Regions from separate parts of the Homo sapiens genome. Here region 2 is linked to region 1. The links come from fine-mapping of genetic effects on gene expression. Tissue or cell type: fibroblasts. Region 1 holds a variant in brackets; the other region holds the start of a gene. All regions are shown on one strand. Distances are between the middles of the regions.

The links. PIP is the estimated chance that this variant, and not a neighbour inherited with it, causes the effect.
Region 2: it holds the start of SALL1, and the variant in region 1 is fine-mapped to the expression of SALL1 in fibroblasts (GTEx, PIP above 0.99).

What each region holds. Positions count from the first base shown.
Region 1 is chr16:51,536,147-51,543,499 of GRCh38, reverse strand. No RefSeq gene overlaps it. Among named protein-coding and RNA genes, the nearest start is that of HNRNPA1L3, 110 kb to the left of the region's middle. RefSeq lists enhancers at 1-686, 2,994-3,607, 3,608-4,222. The variant G/A (reference allele first, on the strand shown) is at 4,292.
Region 2 is chr16:51,148,245-51,155,597 of GRCh38, reverse strand. It overlaps SALL1 (spalt like transcription factor 1), which reads left to right and starts at 4,328. Exons shown (of 3, transcript NM_002968.3): 1 at 4,328-4,432. The coding sequence starts at 4,357. RefSeq lists enhancers at 1-975, 4,631-5,131.

The DNA.
Region 1 (7,353 bases):
CACTAAACGTGATGGATTAGGCTTATAAACAGCCATTATGGCCGTCAAACCTCACATGTCAGCTCCCCCTTTGTGTCTGCGCATTTCTAAGCTAACCAGTGATCCATGCATAAGATAGAAGGTTAAGAATGCGCAGAGAAAAGGAGTGTTGACTCCAAGCAAGATGTATCTTCTGCTGATTAGAAATACAGCTGTAGAAAGTGAGGGGGACGCCAGGCAAGAGGCGAGAAAAAGGGACTTGTGTGTGCATGAGTGTATGCGTATGCATGTGTGTGTGTATGTGTGTGTGCGCGCGTGTGTGTGTTTGCAGGCAGAAGGGAGAGAACTGGGGAGGTGCAGAAGTCACTGCAACCTGACACGCTGCATTTCAGTTTTCACAATTTCAGGCTGAAAATCTGCAAGGCCTCTACCTGCCAGCATCCCTCAGCTGTTTCCTTAACTGACTGCAGCTGGTTTTTGTTTTCCCAAGATAAAAATCAGGAAATGCAAAAATTAAATAGGATTTGAGAAGAAAAAGGATGGGCCCTGGGTAAGAAGAAAAAGAGTGAGCCAGCAGTTACCAAGACTTGTTGACAGAGGGATATTCCATCTTGTCGTAATTAAGTTTTAAAAAATCTTAAAATAGGGTGAGGCGAGTGGCAACCCATGCGGCAGGTGATCCTGCGCAATGCCTAGGAGCTAAACTGGAGTGACTTATTCACAAAAGTGAGATTTGAAAATCCTAGATAAAGTTACATGGAAGGGAAAATGAGGTATTTTTAAATCAAACTACTTTATAATTCATAAAGGATGCATTGTAAATCCAATTAATGAAAGGAACCAAAGTAACTTGTCTTGCAGGTAAAGAGGTGAATGTAAATTATGTTTTTTGGCCATGATGGCTGCACATGTATTGGAAAAAGTTTCTGTCAAAAACTGGCTTCCATTATATTTTTACCCTTAAGTCCCAGCTCCTTTAATCTCTGAGAGTTTGTCTCTGATTTCCTGCCATGCCACAAACTCCAGCCTACAAATTCGTCCCTCACTCTCTCTCAAAGAGAAGCTGTGGAATTAAGAGGCAAAGGAGCTCATGCTTTTGAAAAGATCAGGCACGGAGTGGCTGAAATATCATCTAGCCACTCTAAATGTAGATTGGAATTTTAATTTTGGTAAAGTATTTCCTAGCCATCTCCTCTAAAAATCTAAATAAGAAATGATGACCTCATTTATGTATGTATTTATTTATATAGTTATTTATTCACTGTGGGACTTGGATCAAAACTTACTGATGTAACAATAGAAAATTATATTTATCTGCCGTTTTGCAAAGAAAGGAGAAAAGAACATTTGGAAAATACAAAGACCGAAGCAAACTTCCTCTTTTGACTCAGGGGGCTGTTCCATCCTAAAAGTCTGTCTTTGGGTCTCTGGTCACCTTTAAGCATCTCCTAGAGAAAGCCCCTCCTCTAGCCCCTCTGCCTTCAGGCTGGTGTCTGCCACATTAGTATGCTGGTGCACCAACTAATTTGCCTCTATAAATGCTGGGATCTGAATCACACCACTGTTGTGGCCAGAGACTAAATTTCTCTCATCACTCTCTTTGGAGGAAAAGAAAGAAAGAAAAAGAAACACACACACACACACACACACACACACACACACACACACGTTTTCTAAACAACATTCTTACTCAAGCTACACTCATTGACGTTATAAGCCCAGTGGATCACGATTTGGCTCATTAAGAAGCATGGTCTATGAAATGAACACTCAATAAATCTCCCATAAGACAGTAATTTTACTTTTTGTTCACAATTATAAGTAATAATAATAATTCTTATCAGCCCCCCCTCACATAACAAACACAAAAGCCTAACTAGGCTCACTTAATGGTTCCCTTGGCAAACTCTAAAAAGCAACCACAGGAGTATGCCTTATAGCTGATTCCTCCTCCACTTAATCGCTCCCATTCATGAATGAATTAGAATTTTCTGTAACTCAGAATATGTTAATTAAGCAAGAAGAACTTGGAAAGTTAAACTGTTATACCAAGCAGTTTGGGTAAACATTGTATATGTTTATACAAAAATGAACGGCATATATGTTGCCTATCACATAGTTCATAGGACCCTCAGATGTATAGAAGCCACTAATTGAATTGCTCCCATGGCCCCTGCTCTCCTAATAACACACACATACACACACACACACACACACACACAACTATATTGAAGCCTAAAAAAACCACAACACCTCCAGAAGGCATATTTTTCTGTCCTCTTAGCCATAGGCAGCTACTTTAAGAATGGCTGTCACTATTTTCATAAGAAACAGGGAAGACGTGAGTTCCCATTGACACCCCTTTCTCTTTCCGTCTGCTCTAAGGCTTTCAAATATTCCTGAGAAGAGCCTTTCTGTTTGTTTGTTTGTTTGTTTGGTTTGAGACAGGGTCTCACTCTGTCACCCAGGCTGGAGTACAGTGGCAGGATCATGGCTCACTGCAACCTTGACCGCCAGGGCTCAAGCAACCTCCAACCTCAGGCTCCTAAGTAGCTGGAACTACAGGCATGAACCACTATGCCACCACACACAGCTTATTTATTTATTTGTGTAGCTACAGGGTTTCACCATGTACCCCAGGCTGGTCTTGAACTTCTGGGCTCAAGCAATTCTCCCATCTCCGCCTCCCAAAGTGTTAGAGTTACAGATGTGAGCCTCCATGCCGGGTGAGAAGAGCCATTTCTAGAAGCCCATCTGGCCTGTGTCTACTTTAGGGATACTGGGCATCGGACCAAATCACCAGTTTAAAAAAAAAATCCTCAGATAGGATTGTAAGATTTTGTAAATAAAAATATGGGATGCCCCAGTTAAACTTGAATTTCAGGCAACCAAATAATTTGTTAGTATAATTGCATCCCCATATAATATTTGGTGTATACTTCTCTAACACCACTACCCTGAGAAAGCCCGAGCCTGGTGACTCCAGGAGAGTGACTCACCCTGGGCATCTTATTTCTTACTTTGTGATTTTAATTAACAAAGAAAGTGCTGAGTGAAACCACAGATGTCCAGGTTTCTCAATGAGACACAACAACTCTCTGAGGAAGGTGTCTCAATGTGGGGCAGGAAGGCAGAAGCAGACCATTAGAGGCTGCCCCCAGCAACAAACCAGAGCTCACACCTAGTCTCAAATGTTGCTCACAGCCCAAGGAGGTCGGACTTTTATTATCTCCATTTTATAGACAAGAAAACTGAGGCACAGTTTCCAAAGCCAGGCAGCTATAACACAGAGATTTTGCCCCAGAGAGTCTGGCTTGAGACTCTACACTTAAAATAAAAATAATACCAAGCCAGAACATTAACAATTTAATTTTCCAAAGGACCTAAACTGCACATGTATACTAAAATGGAAATGGTTGCAGCCTCATGGCCTGCACCCGCCGCTGCCTCTCCCACTGAGCTGTTAGTGCCTGGACCATGCTTGGCCAGCCCAGTGAGGAATCCAGTGCTGGAAACATGGTGGAGAGAAACATGCGTGAACCCCAGAGAGGAATGGGACAATGCGGGGGGGTACCCTGTTATGCCCCCACCAGAGTCCTGCCCCCGACCCACCTCATTTCTCCCAACCTACAGGGGCAGAGAGCAATGAAAAATATTGAGAATGCAGGCTTAAATGAGGAACTCTGGCAAAAAAATCCTTTTCTCTAATTTAAAGACCACCCAGGTGTGTGCTGGTCTGTCCCCATTTTAGGGTCTTTGCCTCTTGCTTTTCAGCAAGAAAAGAAACAGATGTGATCCCCATTCATCCCTAATGGAGACAGAAGGGGAGGGAGGACCTGGGCAGTGTGGGGAGCTCGGGGCTGTCTCTGGCCTGGAAATTCTGTCTTGTAGGAGGGGGACAGTAACTTCCACAGCGTTTAAGCCTGCCTGTATTTGTCACCTGTCAGCTCAAAGTCCAGCACATAGTATGCAATCAATACACATATGTTCAATCTCTTTAAAATTAAATAATGCAATCAAAAGTCTTGGTGGTGCCCAGGGCATGGGCTGGTGACTGGCCTGGCCTTGGGACTTGGAGCCTGACCACAGGAGTCTCACTTGGTTGGAGTCACCAGTTGATGGGTTGGGGGTGGGGTGCTGGCTTCCCCTCACTCCCACCCTGGACTGGGTCAGCTCAGAGTGTCCTGGACAATTATCCCCAAAGGGGAAAAAAAGTCCTGTTCAACAAATCCTCAACTTTTGTCTCCTCTGGGGCTGCAGACCGTGGTACCTCTTATTCAGCCCTCCCTCTCCCCCATCCTGTGCCTGGGAC[G/A]TTCTGTGGTTATGAGTCAATGATCAGACAGGAAAAGGGCACGCTTACTATAGGGGAGGAGGATTCAGCAGGGCTCTGGGCTTTGATGCCGGTTCTCTTACATCCTGAATGCATGAAAGGCTATGGGAGGGAGAGGAAGAAATATAAAAGCAGAAAGGAAGAAAATGTTATTAAAAAAAAAGTTGAAGGGGAAAAGAAGTGCCTGGTTTGAAATGTTGTTAAGTATCATCGACAAATATCTCCAGGAGACAAAAGCTAGTTAAAAACTGAGTTGAGATAAGCCATCTCCTTCAGTGACTCATCTTCCTAGGGAATAATGGCAAAGAGGCGGTGTTTAGGAGAGAACTGATGTGCAAATAGCAGTGTCCCTGAAGCTGGGGTTAATTACAGGAAGGACTTCCAGGGTAGTTGTTGATACATAGCACTGGCAGCAGAGCCTTGCATCACAGGCTAGGAAGGCAGCTCTCCGCCATTTGAATAGGGTCCCCAAACACTGTCCCAGAGGCAGGGGCCTGGGTGGCTCCCCAAATGCGTTCTTCAGAGAAGCCTCATGCCCAGGCCATGTTGCTTTGTGGGCTGACCCGGCATCCCTACCACCCTAGTCCAAGAACGCTCCCACTCAGTCCAGCCCCTGAAAATGTATCTGTAAATAAACCAGAAATAAAATGTTGTTTGCCATGCTGTTGGAAATTAAAAACTTCAGTCCAAGGATTGGCAAGCAGCACCTCCAAACCATCAGCTAAGTCAAGTCTGGCTGTGGAAAATGGAGATTATTGTCTCAGAGAAACCATTTTTGTACCAGGATACACCTCAAGCAGCTTTGCCTTGCACCATGCCCCACCTCCCAACTTTTTTTTTTTTTTTAGATGGAGTCTTGCTCTGTTGCCAGGCTGGAGTGCGGTGGTGCAATCTCGGCTCACTGCAACCTCTGCCTCCTGGGTTCAAGTGATTCTCCTGCCTCAGCCTCCTGAGTAGCTGGGACTACAGGTGCACGCCACCACACCCAGCTAATTTTTTGTATTTTCAGTAGAAACAGGGTTTCACCATGTTGGCCAGGCTGGTCTCGATCTCTTGGCCTTGTGATCCACCCGCCTCAACCTCCCAAAGGGCTGGGATTACAGGCGTGAGCCACCATGCCTGGCCACATCATGCCCCCTTTAAGAGATGAAATAATGCAGTATATCCATATAGGCAAGGACAACTTGTGATAATTGAGCCCAGAAACGTACCCCATCCTGGGCAGGTTTGCAATGGGGACAGGATACCTGAATTAGAAGGAGGAGTCTGGGAAGCACTGAGAACTGTCCATTGAAAGGAAGAAGAAGCCTACATAAAAAAGCACGCACCAGCCAGCTCCCTATGCAGTGGCTCTCTGATACGCACTGATAAAATTTCAGAGGATGCTGAAAGAGCTCAGCCTCCTCTGCTCCTCCTCAGAAAGATAAGGGTGGGGGCTTTTTCCAACTCTCCACAAGCATCTTTTGACAATTCCGCAAAGGCAGTTCTTCAGTGAGGGGCATAAAGCAGATTCTGAGATCAAAGGGCTGCCGCTGGTAAAAACAGAGAGAAGGTGCAGGGAAAATGGCCCGAGGGCTAAGATCAGCCACCAACCTCCTGATCCAGGCCTCAGTTTCCCCACCTATGAAATGATGGGATAATCAAGATGATGTCTCAGCCCTCACATCTGATTTTCTGAAACTTGGGAACTCCTCAAACAGGTAATCTGACCCCGAGGGCAGGAAATCTATTTCACAGTCCCCTTTCTCTCTCCTACCACCTTAAATAATGCCTTTACCATTAGTAAGAACTTAATAAATAAATATTTTGAATGGATCCATGCATGTGTGATCTGTGGCTCTTTCTTTGTCTTTTAAAATAAAAGATTTTTGGGCCAGTATTTGGGGAGGTGGTACTTCTCTTTCTTTCAGTCTTATAGAGTTGCTTCCAAAGACGAAATAAGAATAAATGACTGTAACAGCTAATATTTTTTGTGCTCAAGCACATTGCATACTTATTCTAATTATATCTCAAAATATTCCTGTGTGGAGTGGTTGCTATCATTCTCATGCCACAGGTGAGGAAATGAAGACTCAGAAAGACTAAGGAATGAGGCATTCCAGTGTGTCAGCCCTAGCTCCTTTTGACGAAGAGTCCTTGTGTTTAAGCATCTTCCTTGACTGCAGGGAGTTTTGCTGTGACCCTACCACTGGCTTGCTGAGTGCCCTTGGGTAAGTCAGTGTCCCTACCCAGTTAAAAAGTGCCCCCTTGGCTGGGCGTGGTGGCTCACACCTGTAGTCCAGTACTTTGGGAGGCTGAGGTGGGCAGATCACTAGGTCAGGAGTTCAAGACCAGCCTGGCCAACATGGTGAAACCCCGTCTCTACTAAAAATACAAAAATCAGCTGAGCATGGTGGTGGGCACTTGTAATCCCAGCTGCTCAGGAGGCTGAGGCAGGAGAATCATTTGAGCCCAGGAGGCAGAGGTTGCAGTGAGCTGAAATCATGCCATTGCACTCCAGCCTGGGTGACACAGCAAGACTCTGTCTCAAAAAAAAAAAAAAAGAAAAAAAAGTGCCTCTCTTGAGCTAGTGGTTATCCCTGCTTCCTTCCCAGACTGGCATTTCAGACTTCTTTGTTCAGCACACAGTTATCAGCTCAAATGGGCCCTCCTTAGGAAACTCTTCAATTCTGCCATGCCCTATCTACTTCCCAGTAAGGCAAACCCTTATTGTGGACTGTCCTTTTCACTTCTCTGTCTGCATATTTATGTGAGCATTAAATTCATGGTCCTCTTTTCCACTACACTGCAAGCCTCCCAATCGCTCATGTCTGTCTTGTTCATCACTGTATTCCATCCCTGGAAATTTATCCCCAGACAGGGGCCTGCCATGAAGCCAATGCTCAAAAAATATTTGCCAAACCTTTGCAGAGGCCTCCAATGACTGTGAAATGCACAGACCAGGGAGGGTCAGTTTCCAAGCCATGAGGAGATACATAACCCTAACTCCTTAGAGCAGCAAACTAAGAATGCCTGGCGCCTTAGAAGAGGATGTTGACAGTTAA
Region 2 (7,353 bases), 390 kb after region 1:
AAAATACAAATAAACCCCAGGTGGTTAATGCGGGTGCATTCAGGAACACCCCCCCACCAACACACACACATGCACACACACACACAGCTGGCCACCCGCTCTGTCCCACCCACCTCCGGGCAGGGGAGGGACTGGGAACCTGATCTCCGGGCTCCTGCCCCGAACTTTTCCCCATCAATAATGTTGATACCATCGATGTGCCTCGTCCCCCGCCCCCGGGGCGCCGCTGCCGCCTTTTCGCCGCTTTTTGCCTTGCTTAAGAAAACGAAACCTCCACTACTGCCCTTCTAGCCTCGGCCGGGGGCCAGCGGGGCCTTGAGCTGGGGACTGAGGAAACAGGGGTGCAGGGAGAGCACTTGGAGACGTCCTCCATTTCTGGGGTAGGGTGGCCAAGCACCGTCAACGGAACGGAAAAGAGGGTCTGGGGCCCAGGCAAGGCCTCATCCCAGGCCCCATCCCAGACCCGAGGTCAGATCGGGCCAGAATAAGATACTTTTGAGGGTAGAAGAACCAGGCCTCAGAATGCGCGAGCCTTGACGCCCCCCACGTTGCCCTTCGTAGGACCAGAGGTTGAGCAAAGAAGCCTGGAAACCTCATGGCTGGGACCCCAGTTGTGGCCTGCGGCCTTGGGGCACAGACCTTCGGCCCCGCCAACCCACCAAGGATACTCTAGGACTTGGGAAAACTAAGGGGACGTATTAGTAGGAACGAGCATCAATCCCCCAAGATGGGAGTTTGCAAAACTCGCCAAGCGCCTCCCCCGGGTGCGGTTCCTCTCCGCCAGTGAGGTCGCGACCCCGGCGCAGCTGCCGCCTCACTTCGGGCTATCCCCATTCGCTATTGCGGATCAGCCCCTAAGTACCAGGCCCTCTGGCGGAACCTGCAAGTCCAAACTTCGCTACCCGGATTCCCCAGTAGTCCCCCCCCCACCCCACCTCCACCCAGAGTTAGGAGGGTGCTACCGCACGTAGAGCGCGCAGGTCTCTGGGGTGAGCAGGGCGCGTGGAGGGACTCCAGGAGTGGCACCTCACTCCCGCTCGCCGCCTACTTTCGACCCGCACAAAAATAAAGAATAACCCCCACTCTGCTTCTGTTTTTATTGATGTATTTCTTTGCATCGCGGCACGCGGAGCCTCGCCAGCGCCCTGACACTGCAGCGCCCGCACCAGCGAACCACGGAACTTGGGACCGAGACAATGGCCCGTAATTGATGTATTGCCATCAACAATAAAGACCAATTCTCCTCTCCCCGCCATTCCGACCATCCCCCTCCTCCCATCCCCCCCTCCTCCACCTCCCATCTCCTTTCCCGGGGCCACCGAGGGAAAGAAAACAAACAAGAAATTAGCGGGGGACGCCAAGCGCAGATCGAAACGCCCGCCTCTACGCCGTCGAGGACGCAAAAAAACGAAAAAAGTTATTAAAGTTTGGATCCCCCAATTTATTCGTCTCTGCTCGCCCATTTTTAATTAAGCATCGCGTAGCTGCTTTTCGCATGTTCATTTCGTTTGGTTGTTTGTTGTGGTGTTTTTTTGGGGGGGGGGAATTTTTTTTTTTCCTACACTTAATCTTAAATCACACGTAGACCAAGTAACAAACACGTGTGAAGTTATTCCCGGGAGCTTCCTGCTGCGCACGCGGCGCGCACCAGGAGAAAAGCTTTGCGGGACCGCCAGCTCCGCTAGGTTCCTGGCTGCATGCGGTGCCCGGGAGGCCCGGACTTTCAAGAAGCCAAGATTGTTAGAGAAGGATGCGGGCGGCTCCAAACACGGGCACATTCCGGGAAAGGAGTGTGCAAGTGCACACAAACGCGTTCGTGTACCTGGGACAGTGTGGATTGGTGGGTGTGCGAGGACCCCTGTTTGTGAGATGGAGGCGGGTGCGGGATTTACACGTGCTCCCGTACACGTTCCCCGGGGTCTGGGAGATGCGAGCCGCTCACACCCCAGGAGTGCGCAGATCCATCTTTGCCGAGGGATCTCTTTAAATATTCAGTGAGAAATAATGGCATTTGAAGCACCACCTATGGAAACATTATTATCTTCATTCTTCAACATCAGCCCCACTGATAGCTTCGTTTGTCTTTTTATCAAAATCTACTGTACCCATCAGGACCTGGCGAGAACGGGAGAGCGAGGCGGAGAGGGTGTGAATGTGTGTGTTAGGGAGTGAGCGAGGGCAGAAGATAAGTAAGAGAAAAGGTGGAAAACGGACGAGCAGGGAGAGAGAAGGGAGAAGTTATACCAATAAAAAAAAATAAAGTCAGCAGATGAAAAACAGAAACATTCATCGGCACACACACACATTTACACCTTAAAAGAAAAGATTTAAGAAGCTAAGAGAAAGGGAAGGGTCCTCTACCGGAGCGCAGTACAGGTCCGGAGTACACGAAGTCGGCTCGGGAGACCGGTGCCCACTTCGCGCGAACCGACCGTGGCACCGGCCAGACTCAAGGGCGCTCGCGAATTGGGGCGTCCTTATGAGCCCTCTCCTTTCCTGATCGTGAGATAGGGCAGGGATTGTGTATCTGCACCCCCCTCCTCCCCCATTACTCAGCCGAAGTTTAGTTTAGTTTAGTCCTTCGGGCGCAAGACTTCGAGAACCTTGGAGCGAGGAGACCCCGAGGCGCGAGGGGAAAGAGCTAGGCTGAGCCGCGTACCGAGTCTCAGGTTCGCGGGCGCCTGAGCCCGGCAGAGGGATCGGGCTCCTGGCTCTGGGCTCTGGGGCGAGGGTAGGGAGGTTGCATCTCAGCTTGAGGGAGATGGTGATAGAGCGAAAAGTTCGGGCGCCGCGCTCGGCAAGTGCCCAAAAAGTGGAGGCGAGCTTCGGCGCCGCCAGGCAGCCTCGGACAGAACACCTCCCCACCGCCCTCCCCCCACCCCGCTTTCCGGCTCTGCGCCGCCACCTCGTCCCGGAAGGCTGGGGCGCGGCCCCCTCCCCAGGGCGGGGTGCCCAGGGGTCCCAGGGACTGGCCCAGTCCAGTGCCGGGTCCGCCCGGGCTGTGTCTCCCTAGGCCGGTGCTCGCTGCTGCGCTCAGTGTGAGCCGCAGCCCCTCCCCTCCCCCCGGCCGGAGCTGAACTCGGAGCCCAGGCCGGTCCCCGCTCTCCGCCCGCCCGGGGCTCTGCGGCGCCACCGCTGCCGCCGCCTCCCCGCGGAGTGACGCGCCCTGCAGCCAACCGGGGCAGCCGGGGGGGAGGTCCGGGAGGGGTCCTGGGCGGAGCCGGGCCGCCCCCTTATCCCACGGGCTCGGGGCTGCTTCTCCCGAAAACTTCAGCCCTAATTGTCCTGGGAATGTCCGAGGTAGAGAAAGGGAGCGAGGGAGCAAGCAAGAAGCTGGAGGATCAGTGCCCCTGGCGGGGAGGGGATGGGGTGGCGGGAGAACTGCCCCTCCCCCCAGCCACAAACCCATCAGGTTCCCAAACCTTTCCTGGATCCTCTTCTCCGCGCCCCCGCGAGCCCGGGATCCAGGGGATGGAGAACTCGGGGCGGAGGAGCGCCGAGCCAGGCGGGAGGGAGGCCGAGCCGTGGGCGGGAGGCGGACCGGCGTGGGGCTGGCTCTTCCCCACTCGCTTATTTTTTTTTTTAATGGGGGTGGGGGTGGGCTGCTTTCTGGTAGCTCTTAAAGAAACGAAGAAACACTCACGAAACGGGACGCCCTCCCCCCTGATCCCGCCGCGGGACTCCCTCCCCCCGCGGGCCGGCGCGCCTCGCCCCCGAGTTGGGAAGTTCGCAGCGCGCCGGCAGCCCGGGTCCCCAGCCCTCGCCGCCCGGCCCCACCCCCCACCCGGGGCGGCTCAATTCCGGGGAGGGCATGCTAATTTGGGTCGGCCCAGCCCGGGATTGTGGGGGGGGGCGAAGGAGGGAGGGAAGAGGGAGGGGAGAGGGAGAGAGCGGGGGGCGCCTGCCGGGGCGCCGGGCCCGCAGTGGAGAGGAGGCCGGCCCCCGGCGGCCGGGCCGCGGAGTCCCGGGCGGTCGCAAAGAGGGTTAACCCAGTGTCGGGCGGCGCGGCGCGCAGAGCCAGCCCCGCGGCCGGCTTATTGGGCCAGCGCGCGGAGAGACAGGGGTCTGCAGCAAATCACGAACTAATTGATTAAGGCGAGCGGGTTTGAATAGCGCTGGCCCGGTGCCAATCGCCTTTCAAAGAGCCCCTCTATGATTAATCGCAATGCATTATTGATAATCATAATTATAGCAGGACACATGCGCGCTGCGCCCGGGGCCGGGGAGCCGGGGAGGGGGCGGGCGGGCCGGCGGGCGGGGGGAGCCGCCGCCGCCGCCGCCGCTCGATTTCCGTAATTTTGAGAAGATTTTTTTTTAGTAATTTTTTATTCTGCCCCAGCTGATGTTTGAGCCAGCATGTCGCGGAGGAAGCAAGCGAAGCCTCAACATTTCCAATCCGACCCCGAAGTGGCCTCGCTCCCCCGGCGAGATGGTGAGTGCTCCGGCCCGCGCCGTGGACACACACACACGCACTCACACTCACGCACACTCGGACCCACTCACACGCGGCTGGCCCCCGCGCCCCCTACCTCACCGCCGCCGCGGCCCCGATTGCTTCTTCCACTCGGCGTAATTTTTTTTTTCTTTTTAATTTTCAATGTGCCTTTGCTGGGCTTTCCCCCGCTGCCCCGGGGAAAGCGAGCACATCTCCCGGCAGGATCTTTCCGGAGTTGTTGGGTCCTCCCGGGGGAAGGAGGGCGGGCATGCCGGCCTGGCTTCTCCGTCCCTGCTTTTCCGGGGATCCCAGCCGCGGCCAAGACCCGGGAGCCCCATGAGGCGTGGGTGCGGGTGGAGGTCGCCCCGGCCTGACCGCACGGGGCCCCTAGCGCTCCCGGCGCCGGCCCCAGGGCACCCGGCCCGGCCTCCGCCGCCCGGCCTTGCTGCCAGCGGTAAGGAAGTTTACTTCGGGCGCTGGGCTGAACTCCGAGCGTGGGGGAGTTCGCTGCGCCCCCCTGCCCCCACGCACACTCCCCCTCGGCCTGCGAGGCAGAACCGGGTGTCTTTGGAGGTTCAGAGCTGCAAGAAGATGGGGACTGGTGTCGGGGCGCCAGCGCCTGACCCGCTGGGGTTGCGGCCGGGGTGGAGAGTGCTGCTGGCCGCCAGTTGTTCCGGAGACGGTGCAAACGGACGGGGAAAGTGTCGGGGTCTGGCTCGCAAAATTTATCTCCGCATCTCTTCCCACAACACTTGCACCCTCTGCCCCCCAAAATCTTTCTGGTCGGTATGCGCCCTCTGCGGATCGTGGTGCTCCCTACTTCCAGGGGGGTCAGGGAAGAAGTCATAGAATAGTTTTCCAGGTTTGCGGGTGGCCAGCCAGAGTGGAATCCCCCCTGAAACAGGGGCACTTGTTTTCTCCGATGGAGGCGACAACTGTGGGTCCCGAAGGGGCTGAACAAGTCCAGAACAAAGTTTGTGTGTGGGGGCTATGGCAGAGAGTGGAAGAGATCCGGGCAGGGAGTTGGGGTACAAAGGGAGGACACCTGGAATCCCTCCTTGCTCCTAAAGGTGTTTCACGGTACCGGCCTCAAAGCTCCCAGGCCTAGCGCCCGAGGCGGTGTAGCGGCGCCCGGACTCGGGTCCCCGGGTCGTCCCGGCACGATGCTGGCCTCTCGGCTGTGGGAGGACGCACAAGGAGCAATCTCGGCGGGGTCTCAGCGGCTCCGGATGCCACTCGGGATGCCCACGCCCTAGGCGGCATTTTGGGGTGTGAAGGAGGGAGCTGGGCCCCGACAGAGCTCCGAAGCGTGACCCTGATCGGCACCTCAGCCCACTAAGCTGCGGCCGCCCGGGCCCCCAGGTCCCCGGCTCGTTTCCCAGAGGCCTGCCTCTCGGTAGAGCTGGGGCACAGTGAAGCGAAGGGACCCCCGCTCCCTTTACCCCTGATGTCGGGAAAGGGGAATCCTGACTTGGGGTCCCTGTAAAAAAATGGAGGACTTGAAATTAATTAAGAAATGCTTTACAATAGCCCTCCTCCCGGCCCCCAGTGTTTCCTCAAGCTTGAATCCTTACCCACGGCCTCTGCGATTTCTCAGTCCGCTGAAAAGAGCCCCTGAACCCCGCTTTCCACCCCAAGCGAAAGCGAGCACGCGGGGTAGATGGAGGTGAGATGACCCAAGGCCGCAGCAGCTGCGCCGAGTATTTTTCCGGGTTTTCTCAGCTTAGTTTCTTCTGCTTCCCGCAGTCACACTCATCTTTCCTAAAGTTTCTGGTGAGACCTTTTGCACCGGAAAACTGTTCAGGTTAACAGTTTGTACACAAAAAAGCAAACTAGAGATAAGAGAGCATTATATAGTGTGTTTTGTAAATTTGTACTGGTTTTCTACATTTAAAAAAAAAAAGTCTCGGCCTTCGAGGAGAAATGATGCGTGGAAGATCTTTGCCTTTTGCCTTCAGTATCAGGAATTTTTAATAGTTAAGTCTTCTCATAAAGCAATAATATAAAAGGAGTTCACTACCTCTTACCATTATTCTTTATTAGTACTATTTTTTTCAATTTAGTTTATTTGAGCTTTGAGGTAAGTTAAGTAACTCAATCAAGTTTCCTTTCTTTCTCTTTTCTCTCCTTCTTTTGATTTCTTTCTCTTCCTTCCTTTCTTTTTTCTTCGCAAAAGCTGGTACATTGTCCTAAAGAAGCAGTAAACTGTTAGGGGCTCCCTAGGAAACACCCCCTCCCAGCCTTCTTTCCTCACCTCTCCCCACCCCCTCCTCTTTTTCTTCAGTAGTAATGGTTTTAGGTTATGACTGTTTTTACATGGTTGAACAATAAGTTTGGGAGAAGTTGCCTAGAGGGTAGATTTTGTAATAGGGTTTCAGGATTTAGTGTGTTGTAATAATATTAGTACACAAGTAATCCTCCCCCAACGCTGGACATACAGGAGGGCCTAACATACTCCAGTTCTTTTATTTGGGAGTAGTTCTGAAATAAATGGCATTGAAAGTTCATGACATAACTCAAGGTTACCTTTTAAAAGTCACCTTTTCTGCAGTGAGTTCAGCAATCTCATTCTTCTCCCCACATATAACCCATACTTCTAGGAGTAGCTGGATTTTCTGTTTTGTTTTGTTTTTTACGTAAAGAAACATTGTTATATTTTTAGAAGGCAAGCCCCTTTTCAAACATTCTGATTACTTTTTCTTATGTCTTGAGATGGTCTTTGAAATATGACAAATGAAATATGAAACATACCAAATTAAATCTAGTTCATGCACTTCTCATTTATCAGCACCTCAGATTGTATGACTTCTACCCAGAGTGAGACCTAGAAAAGTTTGTAGACCTAAGTTACAGGAGCCCTAAAGAAGCAGCTCCCAAAGCTGAAAGCAGCTAGGGCTGCTTGGTGTTGTGTGTCCTGC